3 separate regions of the Homo sapiens genome follow, and all the other regions are reported to be linked to region 1. Evidence: microRNA targets listed by miRTarBase, many of them from high-throughput screens and not tested one by one. Region 1 holds a microRNA gene; each other region holds the end of a gene's coding sequence.
Evidence for each region. Region 1 holds the annotated microRNA hsa-miR-6510-5p (CAGCAGGGGAGAGAGAGGAGUC, at 1,807-1,828, shown strand). A microRNA usually pairs through its seed, bases 2 to 8, with sites in the 3' UTR of a target mRNA and lowers its output. Matches are read on the target gene's strand: a 7mer-m8 pairs with bases 2 to 8, a 7mer-A1 pairs with bases 2 to 7 and ends in A, and an 8mer does both.

Region 2: the mRNA of MCRIP2 is a reported target of hsa-miR-6510-5p. Seed matches in the 3' UTR shown: 7mer-m8 at 5,503-5,509.
Region 3: miRTarBase lists SPRYD3 as a target of hsa-miR-6510-5p. Seed matches in the 3' UTR shown: 7mer-m8 at 1,124-1,130.

Annotation. Positions count from the first base shown.
Region 1 is chr17:41,511,840-41,519,021 of GRCh38, reverse strand. It overlaps MIR6510 (microRNA 6510), which reads left to right and starts at 1,805; the gene lies at 1,805-1,858. KRT15 (keratin 15) reads left to right here and starts at 132. Exons shown (of 8, transcript NM_002275.4): 1 at 132-692; 2 at 1,857-1,939; 3 at 2,058-2,214; 4 at 2,757-2,918; 5 at 3,012-3,137; 6 at 3,330-3,550; 7 at 4,348-4,373; 8 at 4,902-5,277. The coding sequence starts at 195. The coding sequence ends at 4,999. RefSeq lists an enhancer at 1,497-2,381.
Region 2 is chr16:646,717-653,898 of GRCh38, reverse strand. It overlaps MCRIP2 (MAPK regulated corepressor interacting protein 2), which reads right to left. Exons shown (of 5, transcript NM_138418.4): 3 at 6,355-6,482; 4 at 6,015-6,116; 5 at 5,425-5,779. The coding sequence ends at 5,709. WDR90 (WD repeat domain 90) reads right to left here and starts at 4,534. Exons shown (of 41, transcript NM_145294.5): 1 at 4,473-4,534; 2 at 4,045-4,136; 3 at 3,732-3,908; 4 at 3,537-3,645; 5 at 3,190-3,360; 6 at 2,796-2,904; 7 at 2,633-2,700; 8 at 2,152-2,255; 9 at 1,860-2,072; 10 at 1,364-1,432; 11 at 448-558; 12 at 229-374; 13 at 96-153. The coding sequence starts at 4,482. LOC105371038 (a long non-coding RNA gene) reads left to right here and starts at 4,586. Exons shown (of 2, transcript NR_135177.1): 1 at 4,586-4,944; 2 at 5,284-5,441. RefSeq lists silencers at 4,160-4,289, 4,400-4,499 and enhancers at 3,675-4,497, 5,920-5,969.
Region 3 is chr12:53,059,746-53,066,927 of GRCh38, reverse strand. SPRYD3 (SPRY domain containing 3) reads left to right here. Exons shown (of 11, transcript NM_032840.3): 9 at 236-355; 10 at 442-614; 11 at 962-2,612. The coding sequence ends at 1,096. It overlaps TNS2 (tensin 2), which reads right to left. Exons shown (of 29, transcript NM_170754.4): 18 at 6,670-7,182; 19 at 6,373-6,523; 20 at 5,664-6,253; 21 at 5,459-5,548; 22 at 4,988-5,113; 23 at 4,683-4,775; 24 at 4,475-4,552; 25 at 4,231-4,308; 26 at 3,671-3,839; 27 at 3,511-3,579; 28 at 3,336-3,365; 29 at 2,549-3,184. The coding sequence ends at 3,046. Among named protein-coding and RNA genes, the nearest start is that of MIR6757, 6.4 kb to the right of the region's middle. RefSeq lists an enhancer at 488-989.

The sequences.
Region 1 (7,182 bases):
ACCCACTCAAGGTGTGCAGGCAGCTGTGTTTGTCAGGAAGGCAGAAGGAGTTGGCTTTGCTTTAGGGGAGGAGACGAGGTCCCACAACACCCTCTGAAGGGTATATAAGGAGCCCCAGCGTGCAGCCTGGCCTGGTACCTCCTGCCAGCATCTCTTGGGTTTGCTGAGAACTCACGGGCTCCAGCTACCTGGCCATGACCACCACATTTCTGCAAACTTCTTCCTCCACCTTTGGGGGTGGCTCAACCCGAGGGGGTTCCCTCCTGGCTGGGGGAGGTGGCTTTGGTGGGGGGAGTCTCTCTGGGGGAGGTGGAAGCCGAAGTATCTCAGCTTCTTCTGCTAGGTTTGTCTCTTCAGGGTCAGGAGGAGGATATGGGGGTGGCATGAGGGTCTGTGGCTTTGGTGGAGGGGCTGGTAGTGTTTTCGGTGGAGGCTTTGGAGGGGGCGTTGGTGGGGGTTTTGGTGGTGGCTTTGGTGGTGGCGATGGTGGTCTCCTCTCTGGCAATGAGAAAATTACCATGCAGAACCTCAATGACCGCCTGGCCTCCTACCTGGACAAGGTACGTGCCCTGGAGGAGGCCAATGCTGACCTGGAGGTGAAGATCCATGACTGGTACCAGAAGCAGACCCCAACCAGCCCAGAATGCGACTACAGCCAATACTTCAAGACCATTGAAGAGCTCCGGGACAAGGTGAGTCCTCGGATGTCAAAGAGAGGGGAGCAGGTGGCTGGTACCCTGTACACAGCTCTAATGTCAGTGTTACTGCTGACTCAAGGAAATCCTTTCCTGCCCAGGCAATGACTGTCTGGTATGTAATCTCAGCAAATTTGGAATGCACCTGCTGTCCAGGTGCAGAGGCCAGTGCACATCTTCTCAACTTGGTGGTGCTGGGGGAGGGAGAGAGGGGTCTTGGGAATCTGGTTAGGACCAACAGGGGCACAGGTGGGGGCAATTATAAAGAGCCAGAGGCAGTAGCTCACACCTGTAATCCCAGTGCTTTGGGGGGCCAAGGTGATAGGATTGCTCGTGTCCAGGATTTAGAGGCTGCAGTGAGCTATGACTGTGCCACTGCACTCCGGCCTAGGTGACAGAGTGGAACCTGTATCTAATTAAATAAAAATAATTAAAAAAAAAGAGCAACTCGCCCTCCCTACCTCATGCACCCTGCAGGCTTCTGCATAAAGTATTCCTTTACCTCTTTTGCAAGAATGGGATTGGAGTGTGGCCTCATGAGTTCCAGATGCTAGAACCTCTTGTCTTTTCCTATAAAGAGGTCTTTTGTGCCAAAAGTACTGTTGGGTCTTAGGAGACCTGGGAACTCATTACACATTCTGCCACCCACTCACTCACCATTTTACTCCCTAAGACTGGGTTCCTCATTCGTAAAATGCCTTCTTAACTGCCCTCCAGGTTGCTACTGGCTGGAATGTTCTGTAGATCCATGGCTGTGTCCAAGGTGTGCAGGAGGCAGTGACCATGAGTTGTCCACAGTGGGGCTGGTGGAGTGTCTCTGAGAGAGCTATTGTCAGAGCTGGCTGCACCCCACTGCCCCACTCTCCTGGGCAACCAATTCCCACAGGCAATACTGCCTCCTTGGTCTTTCGTGCCCTGGAGATAAGGAAGGCAGCTCCTCAGGTGTCTCAAGGAGGCTGGATGGGACAAAACAAGAAATGGACACTGAAAGTGAGGCTGGACTTTGCCCACCCCAGAAGCCGTACAGATTTTTGTTGGTGGTGTCAGAGGGGTGATTGTCAGTGAGGGGTGATTTTCAATGAGGGGCTGGCCTTGGGTGCAGAGCAGAGAGCAGCAGGGGAGAGAGAGGAGTCCTCTAGACACCGACTCTGTCTCCTGCAGATCATGGCCACCACCATCGACAACTCCCGGGTCATCCTGGAGATCGACAATGCCAGGCTGGCTGCGGACGACTTCAGGCTCAAGTGCGCTCCCCCGTCTCTCTCCTCTTCCTGCATTGCCCACTTTACTTGGCCTTCTCCTGGCTCTGACTCAGGCAGCCAAGACCCCTCCCACTTCCTTCTTTGGCCTCCCTCTCCTCAGGTATGAGAATGAGCTGGCCCTGCGCCAGGGCGTTGAGGCTGACATCAACGGCTTGCGCCGAGTCCTGGATGAGCTGACCCTGGCCAGGACTGACCTGGAGATGCAGATCGAGGGCCTGAATGAGGAGCTAGCCTACCTGAAGAAGAACCACGAAGAGGTGAGAGCTGGCCCCCATCACCCCTGAACCCGAGAGAGGTGGGGAACCTCTTCCCAAAACTCACTTAAATTGCCCAGAGGGAAAGACAGTGGCTCCAGGAAGCCCTCCCAGATTTTCACGAGATTAAGTCAGTGGGAGGCAGAGTGGGGCTGTTGGTACTTCCTCATAGTTGGCCTGGGGCTTAGTGGTTCAGAAACACACCTACCCCACAAAACCAGGTGTCCTCATGGAGAGGAAGGGGCAGTGTCTGGTAGCCCAGGCCCACAGCCAGCCCAGGTGGCCCGTATGAATGGTTGACTTCCTGATTGGCTTTGTGAGCTCACATCAGGGCCCTACAGTCTCGGGGTCCTCCCTTGGTAGGACCTAGAGCAGCAGAGAACTCCTTAGAGCTGAGGGGTCCATGTGACCAAACCTCTTCATGTGCAATGGGGAACAGCGGTTGGGGTGTGTTACGGGCAGAGCCAGGATTGGCATGTGTGACGCCAGACTCTCAGGTCTCTCTTCTGCTCTCCGTCTCTAAGTGGGTCCCTCCCATCCTGCAGGAGATGAAGGAGTTCAGCAGCCAGCTGGCCGGCCAGGTCAATGTGGAGATGGACGCAGCACCGGGTGTGGACCTGACCCGTGTGCTGGCAGAGATGAGGGAGCAGTACGAGGCCATGGCGGAGAAGAACCGCCGGGATGTCGAGGCCTGGTTCTTCAGCAAGGTGGGCCTTATATCCTGCCCTGCCCTTCCTGCCCCAGGTCCCTGAGTCTCCGAGGAGGCCCCGGGGCTCACTTCTGTTGTGCATGACCTACAGACTGAGGAGCTGAACAAAGAGGTGGCCTCCAACACAGAAATGATCCAGACCAGCAAGACGGAGATCACAGACCTGAGACGCACGATGCAGGAGCTGGAGATCGAGCTGCAGTCCCAGCTCAGCATGGTACGGCCACTCGCGCCCCATCCCAGCCTCTCGGGTGGTAGAAGCTCCCACTCTTCCTGGCTATTTAAGCCTTGGAGTTCTCAAGCCCCCTCAAGAGGTGGTTCCCTGAACTCCATTCAGTGCCCCCTCCCTGCTTGCCCTCAGTGGCTTCCTTTCTAGCCTGATGTGTCTATGCATCTGTCACTCCCCCAGAAAGCTGGGCTGGAGAACTCACTGGCCGAGACAGAGTGCCGCTATGCCACGCAGCTGCAGCAGATCCAGGGGCTCATTGGTGGCCTGGAGGCCCAGCTGAGTGAGCTCCGATGCGAGATGGAGGCTCAGAACCAGGAGTACAAGATGCTGCTTGACATAAAGACACGGCTGGAGCAGGAGATCGCTACTTACCGCAGCCTGCTCGAGGGCCAGGATGCCAAGTAGGCGCCTGGGCACAGGGGAAGGAGTGATGAGGGCTGCTTGTGGCTAGGGTGCAGGGTCATCCTAAGGGAATGGCAGGGTGTCCCTAAGCAGCCTTGAGGGACTGTGAAAAGAGAACTGAGCAAGGAGGGAGGATCTGGACTCCTCACTCTGGTCCTTGGCTGTTACCTGGGACAGGTCACTTCCTCTCTCTGGATCCGTGTTTCTTCTGTAAATGATAGAGGCTGGGCTAGTGGTAGTTAAGATCTAGTGCTCATTCCATTCTCTGCATGAGATAGATGGGTATTCTTGTAGTTCAGAATCTTGACCAGCTCAGTGGCTCATGCCTGTAATCCCAGCACTTTGGGAGTCCAAGGCGGGTGGATCACTTGAGGTCAGGAGTTCGAGACCAGCATGGCCAATATGGTGAAACCCCGTCTCTACTAAAAATACAAAAATTAGCTGGGCGTGGTGGCGGGTGCCTGTAATCCCAGCTACTCGGGAGGCTGAGGCACAAGAATCACTTGAACCCGGGAGGCGGAGGTTTCAGTGGGCTGAGATCGTGCCACTGCACTCCAGCCTGGGCGACAGAGTGAGATTCCGTCTCAAAAAACAAAACAAAACAAAACAAAATCTGTCTACTTGGGGATAGCAGGCCTGGATGGGCTAGCAGGATGTCCCACCCCTAGAGGAGTCAGATGTGTGGGTGGTGGTGGTGTAGGGTCTGAAGAACACTGCATAGCTATCTACATGAGCTTCCCTTACGGACACTTGAGCTTGTGCCCTTTGCTTAAATCAGCTTCCCTCTTTCTTTCAGGATGGCTGGCATTGCCATCAGGGAAGGTAGGAAGGCTTTACTCTTCTGGTGTGGGGTGGGGAGGGGAGATGTTGAAGCCACCACCCCCTTCGGAATAGGGAGGAAGGAGAAAGAGCCCAAACATCCCATTAGGTGGGAACATTCCCATTCATTAGATGCCTCTTCCCCAGTGGGAACTTCTGTCAGCCCCAGGTGAGATTGCAGCTGGTGATTTATTGAGAAACTTCCAGGTTGAGTAGGCTTCATTCAGGGCATGTCTCTCCCCCAGGCCCCATCTTCATACACTTCCGCTAAGATGCCCACAATTCATCCCCCTTCATGTGCAGCTTGAAAAACCCTGACATTGTTGCTCCCTGCCGGGCATACCTGCCATTGCCACTGCCCATCTCTGTGATGAGGAATTCAACACCAGATCTCTGGCAGCTCTTGAGGGATTGGCCAGTGGCCATTCTCAGGGGTGCTGTCTAGTTTTCCCAGAGCCCCGCCAAGGTCCTGGCCACCGTGGCAGAGCGGGGAGGTTCCCCCACTCTAAAGCCTACTCCTTCTCTCTCTAGCCTCTTCAGGAGGTGGTGGTAGCAGCAGCAATTTCCACATCAATGTAGAAGAGTCAGTGGATGGACAGGTGGTTTCTTCCCACAAGAGAGAAATCTAAGTGTCTATTGCAGGAGAAACGTCCCTTGCCACTCCCCACTCTCATCAGGCCAAGTGGAGGACTGGCCAGAGGGCCTGCACATGCAAACTCCAGTCCCTGCCTTCAGAGAGCTGAAAAGGGTCCCTCGGTCTTTTATTTCAGGGCTTTGCATGCGCTCTATTCCCCCTCTGCCTCTCCCCACCTTCTTTGGAGCAAGGAGATGCAGCTGTATTGTGTAACAAGCTCATTTGTACAGTGTCTGTTCATGTAATAAAGAATTACTTTTCCTTTTGCAAATATCTCTTGGCAGTATGTCCAGTTTTTCTTGATGGGGTCCTGGTTGGCCTCTGATCTCTGAGGAGACCCAGGGTCCACATGGTGATATCTCCCCCCACTTTGGCCTCTTCCCTGCGTGGCCACAATTCTTTTGGGTACCCAGGGCACCAGTGGCTGGGACAAACATAGTGCTACTCAGGTAATTTGCTCTTCTGGGTCACCATGGGGTGACCAGGGAAGTGAGGGTGGGGAGGTTCCCTAAAAAGAGTTTGGTGTACCCAGCACAGAACTCAACACATCTAATAATTATGAATATTTACCAAGTGACTGATCGCGTTGATTGTCTTTGTTCGCCATCCCATGGCTGGCATGATGCCAGGCACGCTCACCCATGGGGCTCATTTAATCCTCACCACTGTAGGTGGTCAGGATTTATTATTCCCACCTTAGAGATGAGGTCACTGGAGGCAGAGAGAAGAATAACTTGCCCCGGGCCTTGTGGATGGATGATAAGTAGCAGGGCTGGGCCTGGGCCTGTGTCTGTAGGACTCCAAGACCAGGGCTTGCTCTAGGACCCCAGGGCCCTTTTCACAGCCTGCTGCCAGGACCCTGCTCCTTGCTTCTGACCCTCACCACATGTGCTGCTCCAATCTCCCATCCTTTCTAGCCAGGCATAACACCTCCAGAGTGGCCGAGCCAGTTCCCAATTTGACTCCCCTGCAGAGCTGGCCCCATCCCCCCTGAAGCTGATGCCTCCTCCCAAAAGGCACTTATATTGCCCAGAGGGAAAGACACCAGCTCCAGGAAGCCCTCGAGATTTTCCCAAGATTAAGTTGAAAGCATCATCAACCCCTCTTACCCTCCTTAATCCAAATCCTGCTCCTGCTCCCCCATCCCCAGCATCTCCACCAGAGTCCTTCTAGAGCGGTAGCATCCATGCACACATTGTTTGTGGCCTCTGGTCTCAGGCTGTTTTCTCTGAGCTCTTGCATTTATCGTCCCAAACCGAGGGCAGAAAATGAGGAAGCACAGAACTCTGGGTGCAGAGGCTGGGCTGGCTCAGGAACTGGGGTGAGAATTGGGGGTGGGGAGGGAGAACCGGTTTCTTGGTCTCACTGGGAAGAGCAGATTGGAGGTGCTTCTGTCTTTGGAGAATCCGATCTTTTGGGGGAAGGGTCAAGCCCTCTGAGAGGGTCCCCATGTGTCTTGTTGTGCAAAGCCTCTTCCCCACAAACCCCTGGTTGGAGGTAAAGTGGTGCCTGCTCTTTCTAGGGGAGATTTAATTAAGAATGTGTCTCCTGAGAACGCACACAGGTGAGACTTCCTGGGGCTGGAGGAAGGAAATGGAATTTAGTGAGTGTCTATGATATGTCAGGCCCTGGGTTGGGCATTCCGGGATGGCATCTCATTAATTCTTCCAATAGCTCTTTAAGTTAGTATCAGCCTTCAGCGTCAGTTTCAGAAGAGGAAACTGAGGCCTGGAGAAGTTTAGTAACCTGAATGAGGTCACAAGCCAGGAAATGGTGAAGCTGGGTCTGGGACTGGTCGCTCTGATTCCAGACCCTCGCTTTGCCCTTTAAGTCGTGAGGTGACAGAAGCTGCAACACTTTTCTTAAGAGATATGCTAACTAAAAATCTAAAACCCATCTTTTGTTTTTAAATTTTTTATAAGAGGCCAGGTCTCGCTCTGTTGCCCAGGCTGGTCTCAGCTCCTGGCCTCAAGTGATCCTCCTGCCTTAGCCTCCCGAGTAGCTGGGATTATAGGAGTGAACTGCTGCGCCCGACAGAAACCCATTTCTTAACCTCTGCGGGCAGCATGCCAAATGCCATACAGTCATTAACGTCAGAAAGATTGTCCTCACGTCTAACCTTAGTCTCTCATGCTGTGGTTTAAGTTCACCCTGACATCCAAACCATTAGCTAGCTGC
Region 2 (7,182 bases), not on the chromosome of region 1:
CACATGAAGCTGGAGTTTCAGAAAACCAAGACCCTTCCAGCTGTCTGCGTGCATCAGGACAGCCCCACCCCAACCCGCAGCCAGGGCCCTGTTACCGTCCTCCCGTGGTGGTCCTTGCCAACCCCGCAGAGAAGGGCCCCGCTGTCAGAGAAGCTGTGAACAGGGAGGAGGTGGTCATTGTCGCCTGGGCTGACCCCCTCCCCCTGCATGGGGCAGACCTGTGCTCACCTGAGAGAGCAGACAACGTGCATTGGGCTCCGGAACAGGCACAAGCACCGCCCGGTCTGGAAGTCCCAGAGCCGCATCACACTAGGGGCCCTTGCCTGGGCCGAGGCCAATAGTGAGCTGCTGCCATCCAGCGCCAGGGCGGAGACCTAGGAGGCAGAAGGGTGAGGGAGGGTGTAGGGGCTGCAGGTGTGAGCTGCCCCAGGCCCGGGCAGCACCCACCTTGTCTGTGTGGCCAAGGAAGAAGCGCTGCTCCCCCGTGTCCACGAGCAGGACGACGATGACCGCATGGCAGGGGTACACGACAGCCGCCCCGTCTGGGGTCCACAGGGCCTGGCACAAGGGGGCGGGGGGCTGAGGACCGGTGCTACGCCAGGCCCCTCCTGGCTGCCGGGAGGTCAGCCTCACCTCCCACTCCAGCCCAGGGAGAGGGGGTGGCAGGCCTGGCACACACACCTGGGCACACAGCCACCCAGGGGCAAGAGAGAACACACACCCTGCACACACTACATACACGAGTCACAGGCTGCATGTGTCAAAAGAACAGCTGGAACACTCAAGCAGACACGTGTACACACATGCACAGACGCCTGTCCTCTAAGCCCCGCCTCCAGTGCAAGAAACTCCGGGGTGGGGGTAACAAAAGGCCAAAGGGCCCCCAAACACTCAGAGCAGGCACCCAGCAGGGCCTGACAAGGGCCCAAGGCCACTGAGGCAGAGGGGAAGGCCACCTCCTCTGCCATGGGGCTCCTCTCCTAGAAGGCCCACGTCACCCATGAGGGACCTACAGGTTGTGCCCACAGCCTGGCCCCACACTGCTGGTCTGGATCATCAGAGCTCTAAAGACGTGAGAGCTCTGGGTCTTCGGGGGGAGCACTTAGCCCAGCCAGTGAGTAAGAGATGCCCGTGACCCTGAGAGCCCCCGGGCACCAGGAGGTGACAGCAGCTGTGGGCGGGGCAGATGCCTGAGCACGCGGGAAGCAGCGGACTGCAGGGGGACGGGACCGCTGTGCCAGGGGGGCTCGGGAGCCCACACACAGCCACCACAGGACATAGGTCTCTCCTCTCTCCCCGTTCTGTACTCAGCGCTCGAGCCGGCCAACGAGAGCTGCTCTGGACACAGCCGCAGGAGCCTCACCTGTCTGGTGCCGTGGCCCCCAAAGCCGATGACGCCCTTGAGCCTCAGGACTGGGTCTGGGAGGAAGCCCTGAAACAGCCATTCGCATCAAAGTCCTGGGAGGCTCAGCCAGGTCCCCAGAATGCCCGACCAACTCCGAGCCCCGCCAACCCCTAGCTGGGTCCTGCCTCTCAAGAAGACTGCCCTGGTCCTGGGTGGCTCCTGCTGGCTGTGGTAAGGTGGAAGCTGGGACTCCAGTTGCACTGCCAGACCTTCGAGGGTCCCCCACAGACCACCTGGGGCTGACGCATTGGGGGTGAGCAGAAGCCCTGCCTTACTCTTTGTGGACAGAGATTCTTCCCCAAAGCCGCCTCCCGCCAGCTCTGCTCCTTGCCAGGAGGCTGAACAAGAGGAGACCGTTGGAGGCACATCCGTTCTGAATGCATCTCGGGGCGGGCTACCAGCTGCCCCAGCCCACACCTCACCAGGCCCCGCCTGCTGTGGGATGGGCACTCACTTCGCAGGAGCCGGTGCGGGCCACGGGCACCTCAGCCGACTCGTGAGTCAACACGTGGGTGCCGGCAGCAGCCGTGTGGATGTCAGAGGCCTCCAGCTGGGCCCAGGGCTCAAGGCTATGGAAACCGGGGCCATCCGCGTTGGAGGCGTCTGAGCGCTCTTGGGACAGGCTGACCTCCGGGAAGGGCCTGGGTGCCAAGGCGGCCCGGCCGGACTGCTGGGGGACAAGTGCCCATCAGCGTCCTGGGCCATCACACCCCAACCCCATCTCATAGGGCGAAGGGGGTACTCACGGCTGTGGGGCTGGGCGTCTGGACCACTGGAGACACACTGAACCGCACAGGTTTGCTGGAGGCCACCGGGCAAGGGAGAGGCTGTGGCCCCGGCCCCAGGAGGACTAGAACAGAGCAAAGAACCCCAGTGACCCAGGGGCCAGCTGTGCAGATGCCTGGTGAGGGTGACGCCTGGGGAGGGCAGCAGCAAGTGGCCCAGCCTCACCGGCTCTGCAGGACCCACAGCCAGTATCCCCACTTCCACCCTAGGCCCTGAAAGTCTCCTCTTCCAGCTAGAAAGCTTGGGGCCCCCGGGTACCCCTCACACAGACTTCCCACCCTCGTGGTTCTGGGAACTCGGACAACCTACGGGCTTCCCTGGGTCCCTGCACCAGCTGCAGCCAGCACACCACTGGGTCCTTTCCCAGCCCTGCCCTCTCCTACCGAGCCCCACGCACCCTACAGGCCTTAACCTGGGTCCCCGCTGACCCCCCAGACCCACCTGCCTCAGGAGGGGAACAGCTCTTCTCAATCGGCTTGGAAGGCACTTTCAAGCTCTCACTTGGAAACCTTGGCAGGCAGAGGGAGAGTCAGTGTCTGGGGGCCCAAGGGCCACCCACCCTCCCACCACCGAGGCCTCCCTCGAAAGAAGCAGAACCACTCACCGGACGTGGATGTAGCGGTCATGCCAGCTCTCTCCCTTGGGCACAGGGAATGCCATTTCCCGAGGCATAGGAGTCACGGGCAGCTTTGCCCACTGGGCCCCAGAGATGGCTACAAGGAGCAGGGTTGTTCCAGGTCAAGGGAGGCTGTTTAGCCACCTGAACACAGGGCACCCGCCAAGGCACTGCCACGCCACCAGCCCAGCCACCGCCCCACCCCAGGGCTGCCTCTGGGATGGGTTCTGACCCCAGGGCTGCCTCTGGGATGGGTTCTGGCCAGAGCTCAGAGACAGCACAGCTCGAGCACTGTATTTTCCCAAGCACCCTGGACTTGGGCCTCTCCAGGGCTGAGAGCATGGGTGAGATATGGAGTGGGGAGTGCAGGTGCGGCCCTCACCAGGCTCAAAGCACAGGTCACTGGTGTACAGGTTCCTGACCAGCAGGCTGGCGCACAGCCTGATGCTCTTGAGATGGCCGTAGCACCGGTTCAGGTAGACCAGGAGAACGTCCTGCAGATCGAGCTGCAGGCAGGTCCAGCGGGCTCCGGAGGGGGCCAAACCCACCAGATCTGCAGGATGGGCACTCAGGGTCAGCGCCCACCCTCCTGACAGCCCGCGACTCCCAGAACTGTGAGCTTGTGCCCCCGCCAGGTTGTCCTCCAGGCCGCAGAGGAGCCTCACTGGGCCTGCACCAACTCCCTCCAGCCACCTGTCCTGGATCATCCACACCCCATCTTGGTGTCACCTCTCTGAGGTGTCCTGGCCTCCAGGACCAAGGGAAACTGGAGCCACGTGGCCGTAGACTTAAACTCCTTGAAGAGGTTGGAGAAAGACACACGGATGACTTGGTTGTCCTGTGGGGACGGAGCAGGGCCGTGAGGAGACAGGGGCCGCAGGGGTGCCGGGGCTCCCACGCAGCCCCCAGCCGCGGGCTCCGTACCTTGGAGGACACATCGAGGTGGATGACGAAGTGCTTGCTGGGCAGGGGCCGAAAGAGCACATACAGGTATCGTCCCGTCAGCCCCAGAGACTGGGTGCTGCTCTTAGGGAGCTGGATGTAGTTGGCGGCAGAGACTGAGCCCCGAATGCGATACACGGCGCCCTTCAGGGTCTTGTCCTGGAGAAGCGGGAGCCCGCATCACCGACAGCACCCAGAAGAAGTGCAGCGGGGGCGAGGGGGCCCTCGGGGGCGGGGCAGCTCTCCTGGGGGCAGGGCAGGGGTGTGGGCTCCGGGCGAGCCCCCGGCCGCCTACCGTGACCACGGCCACGTCCCCCTGCTTGGCGGAGCGCTTCCACTCGTCCACCCGGAAGTGTCTGAAGACGTTGAGGAACGGGTGCTGCCACGCTGCGGGGAGCGGGCGCCGGGCGTCAGGGGACTCGGCCACGCGAGCCGGGGCCACTGCGGGGCTGGGCCGGGCCTCGGGGACCAGGCAGGAGCCGGGGCTCTCCGCGCCTTCCCCGGCGACGCCAACGCCAGCTAGGCTGGCGGGACGAGGCCGGGCGCCCGAGGGAAGCCAAGCTCCGGGAGCCCGAGGGTGGGCGCCCGGCAGACGGGACCCTGCCTGAGCGGGGACTCTGGCCTCAGGGCCTAGGCGGGGGCCCTGAGCGCTCCGGCCGCCGACCCTGGACCCCGGAACCCCGGAACCCGGGATCCTCGGGACCCCCGCCAGCCGCGCGCTACCTCGGGCCATGGCGCCGCCGCTCGAGCTTCCCGCCTAGGCCTCCGCGCGCCCAGCGCAGAGTACGCCCCGCGACGCCAGGCAACGGCTGCCTGGCAACGGTGCCACTTCCGCCATTACTTCCGCCGTCATGGCGGCGCCCTGGCCACGTGACCTCCCCGGTGGGAGTACCCCGCTCACGTCAGCGGCCTCCAGGGTTGCTCCAGCCGCGAATCCCGCTGCCCTTTGCCCCGCGGGCCTCCCAAGGCAGCCCCCTGTTAGCCCGACCGGCTTCGAAGCCCGCGCCGGTTGCGGATCCTCCGCCGCGCCCACCTGTCAGCGCCTCGGCCGGCCGGGGCTCCCGCCGCATGCAAGCAGCGAGGCGAGGTCGCGCTGAGGCCTGGCCATGCCACGGACGGCCGGGCCTCACCCTGCCGCTCTCTCGCCGTCCAGAGGCCCCTGCTCCACACCTGGGTACCCTGGGTCCTGACTCAGGTGGGCTGGGTCATCCCCGTCCATCAGGGAAGGTAGTGCGGGCGCCCGCGGAGGGGCTGGTTCCCACGTTCGTCCTATCAGGTTCCCCACGTACTCCTTCGCCCAGTGTCCTGCGGCCGGGCCCGGCGGATTCAGAATGGGACCTGGCGTTCTGAGACACAGCCCCAGTGCCGGTAGTGGGGGGTGGTGGACTGCACTCCGGGGCCATTTAATGTCTTTAGGCCTTGAGTCTCGGCTTCGGTCCCAGTCAACGCCAACGGGAGAGGAAAGAGGAACCAAGTGGGGTCCCCAGACTTCCAAGCAAGGTGGGCTGGCTAACGTCCCTCCTACCTGTCGCAGGGCAGCTGGGTGAGAAGCTAACGGCTTGAAGGAACAGGGCTACAAGGGGAGTTTGTGCTGGGCCTGGCGTCCCAGGCTGTGGACTGGAACTGGACATGAGAACCCCCCCTACACCCTCCCAAGTCAAAGACACTCCAAAAAGACAGTTTCTCCACTTTATTAGCCTGGAGCTCCTCCCTGCCAGCCCCAGGGGCTGGTCGCTGGTCCCTGGGCACAGTGAGCAGGGCTGAGGTCAGACGGGTTCGGCCCTTGGCCATGGCAGCTTGGTTGGGACAGCCGGGCCAAGGGAAAAAAAGGTGCAAAAGTCCAAATGCTGGCACTTCAGGTGTGGCCGGCACCCAGCCAGGCGCAGTGGGTGGGCAGGGCGCCATGCTTCTCTCCTGGCGACAGGTCGGCCGTGTAGCAGCGCCCCCTCCCAGCAGCCACTAGGAACAGCTGGTGATTCTCGCCAGGAACTGCTGCGCCCACCACTCGTCTAGGTCAATGGGCACAAAGTCTGTGGGCAGAGAAGGCTGGGCAGTGATGCTGCCTCCCAGGCCAGCCGGCAAGTCTCCCCTGGAGCTAACCACAAGCCGCTCACCCGGACTCCGAGTGCGGCAGGCGCTGGGAAGAAGGGGTTTCTGCACAAGAGTCCCCTCCCTCATCCCCTGGGGTGGGAACCTGGCAGGGCCTGGGTCAGGATCAGAGGGGCTGGGGGGTCTCTCCTGGGGGGACAGGGTTGGGGGGCTCACTCTGCAGCCGGGGATTGGGGGTCCTCTCCACGTACTGCACAGGCCTTGGCCCGCCCTCACCGGCTGGGCCACCATCCAGCTGCTGTTGCACCTGCTGCCAGGCTGTGGGAGGAGGGCAGTCGGGCTGAGCCAGGTCCCAGGCACCCCATCGCCCACCCAGGGCCTGATGGTCACCCTGGACTCCAGCCCCACACAGGGCTGGTCACAGGACACAAGGGCAGAGTGCCAAGGAAAAGCACAGCCATGCAGCGGCTGTGGGTCAGCTTGAAGTGGGGCCATCCCGGGTCCATGGTTTTGCGACCCAGCAGCCTATGCCGCACCCTCTGGCCCCGCTCGCTACCTTCGGACACAAAGCGGACATTCTCCTCGTGGGCCACTGTGTAGGTCTCCTGGGTCCCCTCGAAGGATGGGGACGTGGAGGGGGCCCGCCGGCCATTCACACGATTGAACACAAGCCTTGGCCCTGGACTGCAGGAAGGGAGGAGACGGACATGGTTGGTGCCCATCCCAGGTGCGGTGCTGCCTGGCAGAACTCAGGAGCAGCCCCGGGCCAGCCCACTTTCCCCAGACTTGGCCAGCCTAGGCACTTCCTGAACCAGAGAGAGCAGCCACCCACAGCAGCCGGTGGCCCAGGCCTCTCTTGCAGTCCCCAAGCCATCGGCAGCTCAGCTCACACCTGCAGCCCTGTGTCCTGAGGGAAGTGAGTGACTGTAGGGTGGGGGCCTCAGTCTTAGAGTGTCCCAAACCTTTGGTCGGGCCCCACTCAGTACCCCTCCCCGAGGGTCTTGCAGGTGCCCATGCTGCCACCTGCATCCCATCAGCAGCCCAGATTCTGACCTGAGCCACGACCCAGTCCATGACCATGTCTCTCTGCCCCAACCCCCCCACTCTGGGTGTAGTTCTAGGCCACATTCTCGCCCCACAGAAGCACCTCCATCTCCACGATGTTTCCCTCCATGGACGGATGGACCTGGACGGGAACGGGGGCCTTTGCCCTCTCCCTGGCTGCCCCCACGTCCCATGGGATGAGGACTGGGTGCCGGGATGGGCAGTCCCTGAGTCGGGAGAGTGACTATAACCCTCGCCCACTCCCCACCGGCCCGAGACAAGGGGCGATGCCAAAGGAGATGGCTCCCGCAGTGCCGCACGCAACGTCTGGTGGGCCCCT
Region 3 (7,182 bases), not on the chromosome of region 1:
CTGGCCATGCTGGTCTCAAACTCCTGACTTCAGGTGATCCACCCTCCTTGGCCTCCCAAAGTCCTGGGATTCCAGGCGTGAGCCACCGCGCCCGGCCTCTCTCTCCATCTTTGTTTCCGCCCTGACCCTTCCCTTCCTCTGAGGGGTGGGAAGTGTTCAGCTTCATGAGCCACTCTGGGGGTGTGGTGTCAGCCCTCCTTCCTCAAGTGTTTGTCCTTTCCCCTCCCTCCAACAGACGATGGGAAGATCTTCCATGGCAGTGGTGTGGGGGACCCCTTTGGGCCACGCTGTTACAAAGGGGACATCATGGGCTGTGGAATCATGTTCCCCCGGGACTACATTTTGGACAGTGAGGGTGAGTGGGGTAGGGGTGGCCAGCCAGGCTGCTTGGGGCCGAGGGTGGAAAGGCACCACAGGAGCTCAGGTTTCCTGGTCTCCTAGGGGACAGTGATGACAGTTGTGACACAGTGATCCTGTCTCCGACTGCCCGGGCCGTCCGGAACGTGCGGAATGTCATGTACCTGCACCAGGAAGGGGAAGAGGAAGAGGAGGAAGAGGAAGAGGAAGAGGATGGGGAAGAGATAGAGCCGGAGCATGAGGGCAGGAAGGTGGTGGTGAGTACGGAGAGTTTGAGGTGGGACCAGGGTTTTTGGGTCTGGGCAAAGGGTGGGTATTAGTGGGGAACAGAACTCACAACCAGGGTGGGAAAGACGGGAAGCTCTGGCGTTGCCCAAGGGCTGTTCCCAGCTCCAGGGGTTGCTGAGATCGGGAGACGGTCTTGGGAGGCTGTTTTCCGGCCTCAGCACGCCCTCTGGTGGTCACTTCCCATAACACCTTAACTGCCCCTCTCCAGCCCCGCTGGAAGCTGGGGTGATTGGGGTTCAGGCCTGTGGAGCTCCAGCATCCTCAGGGAAGAGGCCACAGCCTGCTTGCTCCATTCTTCTCCCCACCTCCTCCCCAGGTTTTCTTCACTCGGAATGGCAAGATCATTGGGAAGAAGGATGCTGTTGTTCCTTCTGGAGGCTTCTTCCCCACCATTGGAATGCTGAGCTGCGGGGAGAAAGTCAAAGTAGATCTGCACCCCTTGAGTGGCTAGGGCCTCCCCTCCAGACCTGCTCCTTCTCCCTGCTCACCCTCTGCTGGGCCAGGCACCCAGTTCCTGACTTCCCAGAGGCTTCGTTTACCCAGCAGGCCCCTGGAGGTGTGTAGTCACTCTGCCCCCACTGGCTCAGGCCCCTGTCACGCTTCTCTGTGCCCACGTTTCTGACCTGGTGCTGCCACTGTTGTCAGTCCCTGGGCCTGAGTCCCTGGTTGGACAGGAATGGACCCAAAGAATGGTGTTGGTATGTGGGTGGTCCCACTCGCTTTGGTCAGTGGGCTTCTGGGTCCCCCTTTCCCTCACCGGCCCTGTGTGGGTGGAGAGGCGTGAGCACCCTATCTCAGCTGCTATTCGGGCATGATGCTTTGTAGAGGGTAGAGTAGACAGCCCCCTCCCCTACTCACCATGGTATTTCTCCTTGAATTCCTCTTTCTTGTTTTCTTTCCTGGTTGTGTGAACCAGTTGCTGCTGTCATACCCCTGGCAGGGCCAGGGGACCTCTCTTTGGTCATCTCTGTCCTTTCACTGGCTGCTGCCCCAGGAAGACTCCTCTAGGCTCTCCATCTTTCCCTTGAGAGCTGGCTCCCCACCCCAACCTGCTCAGGCACCACAGAGGATCTAGGTCTCTGGCTCCCCATACCTGGACCCACATGGGTGGGTGCCTGTTGCATGTTTAAGAGAGAGGGGCTGTGAGGTGACAGGGCACTAGGGCCTTCACTCCTTTCTCCCCTTCCATCCTTTCTTTACCAGTGCCACCCATGTCCCTAGCTCCCGGGTATTGGGGCTGAGGCTCTGGGGCCTGTCTCCCTGCCAGCGTGAGGGCAAGACCCCAGAGCCTTAGCTGAGCAAGCCCAGAGGGGCAGCGTGGCCCCTCCCTCCCCTTTTCCTGCCCCGTCCCATGCCTCAGCTTGCTGCTTGTGCCAGTTGCCTGTTTCGCTTCAGTGTTTGATTCTAGCACTTACATGTGTCCTCCCCACCAAGCCCTCTATCTCCTTCTAATCCTTCAACCCCTGGCCCCCTCCCCGTAACAGTGACTTTTCCAGGGAGGAAGAGGCAGCAGGAGCTGTTGGCCTTGGTTTGCACAGAGCGGGTAGGGCTGTAGGGAAAGCGGGTGAGCTGTTGTGCTGCTGGGCCTCCCTTTGGCCCTCGCTTCCCACCCTACGATGTATGAAATGTATGTACAGACCAGAGATGTTTATACAGCCGATAAAGATGGAGTTTCCGTATTTATCAGTATGGCCGGAACCAGGAGCCTTTCTAGTCCACTGGGCTAGGAACAGGACTGCTGGATGGGGGCAGCCGAAGGCAGCTTGCTCATGGGGAGATGTGGACCAATGTTGGGCCAGGGATGGGAATCATATGTTCCATGGGCCTGGCTACAGGCCTGAGCACAGATACGTCCCCTGGGAGATGAGGCTTTGACCTTCCTGTGAATAAGTGTTGACTCCAATTTCGGCTAAAGTTTATAGAAATTCTTTATTATTAGACAAAAATAGACTCTCTTTTTTCCCCTATTCATGTGATCCTACTCTGAATCTCTGCTCAGAGGAGGCAGTGACTCGCTCCCCACCCCTCTCCCATCCCTGCCGTGCTGGCACCTGCAGCTGGGTGGAACTGGCAGGGGCTGATCCCCTGGAGGGCTGACGTTCTCCTGCAGGTGGGGCTGCCTGATCTCCTTCGGGGCTCAACTGCTGATGCCTCCTCACCCCTCACACACCCATCTCTGCCATCTGCTCACATGCAAGGTCATCTTGTGGGCCTGTCCACTTAACTTAGCAGGCTGGGGGCGGGGAAGGAGAGCAGTGTCCCAGGCCTGATGCCCACTCCTCATTCCTAAGGGAGGGTGCTTTCTCCTGGGTCTCCTGGGTCCAGGCCAGGGGATGTGAGGGCTGTGGGGTGCTGGGAGGGGGGCAGTGTTGATGTGGGCTCTGAGCTTGTGGCCTTCCTTCATTTTCTCTGGCCCAGTAGAACTTTGGTGATGAAGGTGACAATGGCGCCAGCAGGCTGATCTGGGTCAAGCTCTGCAAAGAGGTGACACACATTCTCCCAGGGGCTTCCCGGCTTCTTGGCCACGAAACCAAAGATCCTAGGGGGATAAAGGGTGGGGAAGGGGCTTAACATTCCTTCCACAAGGGAATGTAGCTGGCCTTGGTGAGACAAATCAAATGCCAGCATTGAGAGGACAGCAGCGCCCTGGTCCCTTGGAAGGAAGAGGCTGAATTCGTGGGGAGGCTTACTTGGAGGTGGTCCCGTCTGGGTTGGTCCATCTGCAGAAGGAGAAGAAGGTGAAGATGCACACCCCAGGGGACAGCTGCTGAAGGGGGGCCGGGGCCGGGGCTGGGGCTGGGGCTGGGAGCTGGGACCTGGTGGGACCATGGGGATTTGGGGCAAAGGGTTTGGAGGGAGAGTCACCTCCGGTCTTGAGGGTCAGTGCTGGAGAAGGTGATGCTGTTCACTGGATAATGGCGGCGAAAGAAGAGCCTGCAAGGAGGAGGGTGAGGAAGGTCACACTCAGAAACATGAGCCCCCAGGGGCCTTAAGCATGGGGTTCTACAGGGCTGAGTATACATACTTCCTTTGGTTGTCCGTCAGTGTAATGCCCTGGGCTGACACCTTGAAGTGGACAACAGCTGGTGTCGGGCGGGGGCTACAGCTCAGAGCTGCAGAGCTGGCCCGGGCCACAGCTTGGGGGCCCGTCAGTGACTCTGTCTCCACTGAGGTCAAGTAGAGCACGCTGCAGGCTACAGGGGCAGGGAGTGGGTCAGGGAGGGAGTGCCCATCCCCTAGCCACCCCCACCAGCTCTTGCACATTCCCCAGCTACTGCTGTCACATGCTTTACAATCACATAGGTGACTTGTTAAAAAGGCAGATTCCATGACTCTACTGGATCTACAGTCAGAAGCGAGGCAGAGAAGCCTCCCTGCTACCACCCCATGATCGTCTTGTTCATGAGACTTTGAGAACCTAGGCTGAGGACCCAATTCCTCATCCCCGACAGTATGGGGCTCCCCTGCCCTCATGGGTTGGCCAGGGCTCACCCACCTCAAGGCCTTTCAGTGCCCCATGCCCTGTATCCACAATGCCCCCTTGGTGCCCAGGGAGAGGGAGGGGAGTGGAGGGGAAGTCTCTACCAGCACCCTGACGCAGGAGGTCTGCCGCTGTGCTCATGTTGGTGGGCACTGGAGCCTCTGGGGTCTCTTCCAGAGGATCTGAGGGCAATGAGAACCGACAGGGAAGCTCAGAAGGCAGAGTGTTCCCCAGGCTGGAGCACTCCCTCTGCTTCCCCAAGGGAAGGCGGGGAGCCAAGACCTCTGGATCCTGCTTTGGCTGCAGGGGGTAGGGAGAGGTGGGGAGGACAGATGACCAGACACTCACCTTTGCTGGGAATGCGCAGGCAGCAGGGCAGGGAGATGGGGGAGATGGAGTGCTGGGAGACCAAGGCGGACAGGCTGCCTGTGGGAGAGGAGGTAGGAAAGTCCCGAGATGCCCAGGGTGCCCCGCCTTTCCCTTCCATCCTCCTGAGATCCCTTGGCATCTCCCTAAACCGACCCAACGTAGCCTTCCCCAGGCTCCTGCTTCTCACCAAAGTAGGGCTCACTGGGGCAGCCCTTGATCTTCACCCCTTTGGGCCCAGTCTCGATGAGGAAATGGCGGACCAGCTGTTCCACGGGGTCCCCTGAGAGGAGGCGAGGGGAAGATTGCGGCTTTAGGATTCCAGGTTCCAGCTTCTTCCCTAATGGGATTCTTTCCCGAGCAGCTGAGGTCTTTTCCTACCTCTCCCCTCTACAGCGGCATGGCCAGCACAGCACCCCCACCTGCCCTGTTACCTTGCCTCTGGCACCACCCCCAACTTCATCCCCACCCCACTCAGGTTTGGGTGTTCTGTACCTTTCCAGGGCTGGGCACTGGGTGGCGGTGTGGCCACCTTGAGGGCCAGCCCATAAGCTCCTTGGAATGAATGACTGTCCCTGATCAGGAAGGCCCCAGGGTCCTTGTCCTTCAGCAGGGCAATGGCTGCAGGGTGAGGGGTAGCGGGCAGTGGGGAGGAGTTTTCACAGGGGTGGACTGAGCCCCATGCAGCCCCCCTCCTCTGCTGCCAAGCTCCATGGTCTCTGCCCTGACAGCTGTGGTGGCGGTAAGAGTCTGAGGCCAGGGCTCTAGAGTTCACAGGGGTTTTGACCATGTTGGATCTCACCGCCTTGGCCCAAAGCCCAGAATCACCTGCTGGTAAACACTCAGCCAAGAGTAAACACAGCTCAGACAGGAGGAGCCAAGAGCTTCAACAGGATGGGACTTAAAGCCAAGACAGACACCCTGGAAGGTGGGATGCAGTGGGGTGGGGGCAGGCTGGCTTCTCACCTTGGTCACGGGACAGGTGTGGCTTGTACCAGAACTTGGATGTATCCTGGACAAACTTGACATTGCTTTGGCTCTCTTGTGTAGGAGGCTCTAGGACAGGGAGGGAGTAGGTTCAGACCCCAGGGTACCCGGGTCCCCATCCATGCTACATCCCAGGAGAAAGGGTTCTCTCAAGGTGGCACCAACCCCCTCAAGGCCTTTATACCTGGGGTTTGGGGGACATTATCTGAGAGCAGAGGTGCGAAGGTGACATGGTGACTGATGCCTCTGGCTGGCGATGATGCCTGCTCTGGGCCCCAGGGTCCTGGCTGTTGCCCCGGCCCGGGCAGGTGGCGTTTCTCAGGAAGTGGGGGCTGGCTAAGGCCATTGGTGTCATAGGAGGCAGCCAGGGGGAAAGCAGGTGTAGGTGAGCTCTGAGGCGGCTCTGGGCTGGCCACAAGCCAGGGCATCTGGGAAGGCACAGGAGTGAGGGGAGACCCATCTGGGCTGTCGGGGGGGCCTCGAGGGCCTTGCCAGGGGGCGTGGCGGAGGCCAGGAAGTGTGGTGGGCACAGGGCTCCGAGGACTGGCGCCATCTGAGTGGCCCCCTGGACTCCTTTCCTGAGGCCAGTCACTGGGCGAGCTGGGAGGGAAGGTCGGAGAGACTGGGCTAGGGGCCAGAGGCTCAGGCCCACTTCCCGACGGCAGCTCAGGGGCCTTTCCGGTGCCTGCCTGGGAAACAGGGGGCAAGGCCTCGCCAGGACTCAGTCTCTGAGTGGGCGCTGAGGTGGGGGACCTGGTGTCCTGTCGCCGGGTGCTGTAGGGTGGAAGGGCAGATGGTCAGCAGAGCCCCCATTGTGGCTGCTCCCACCCCACCTGCCTTCATCAACTGCTTGGACAAGAAAGCACTCGAGCATCCCCGGCCCCTCTGCATACCTTTCCTTGCCCTGGACTGGACTGCTGGTGTGCAGGGGCGTGGAGGGACCAGACAACTCTGACGAAGCACTGCATGGGGCATCTCGGGGAGACCGAGGCAGTGTGCTGTGCCCACTGGGGCCCTCCCTCCAGGACACCGGCTCCAGCGACTCTGCAGTGAAGGGGAGAGGTGGGCTGTGAGCAGGATGGGGCTCTTCTGTCTGGCTTAGCTGTTTCTCACCCTGTTCCCCCTTGACTTCCCCACCATCTTCCAGAACCTCCTCTGCCCTGGGCACTCCGCACTCTGGTGCCCCTCACCTGCAGATGCCAAAGGTCCTGCTGAGGCCAGGTGCCCAGGCAATGGGTACCTGTCCCCTCCCTCCTCCGTAGGGATCTCGTAGCTCAGCTTCCTAGATTGTGGATAGGGCGGGCTGCCCGGGGAAATGGAGCCAGCCCGTGGGGAGTGGGCACCAGGGCTGGGATACCCTCTGCCCTCTCCTGGAGAGCCACAGCTATGAGGCACACGGCCATATGCTGGGCAGTAACTGGGAACTGCTCCTCCATAGCTGTATGTCACCAGGGCAGGGTACCCTGGATGCCCATACCTGCCTTCGGGGCACATGGTGTAGGAGCAGCCCTCGTGCCCTTCCTCGCCTGCCTTGGGTGGCTTCAGGCAGCTGTAGTCAGGCATCGGGGCATGGTGATGCCCACAGGCAGGCAAGAGCAGAGGCAGCGGGTGCCCAGGCCGCACTGGGTGCAGGAGAGGCTTGCCAGCCTCACTTGCCCACCCTTCTCCAGCCTCCCTCTCCAGCCGCAGTCCATACAAGGCTG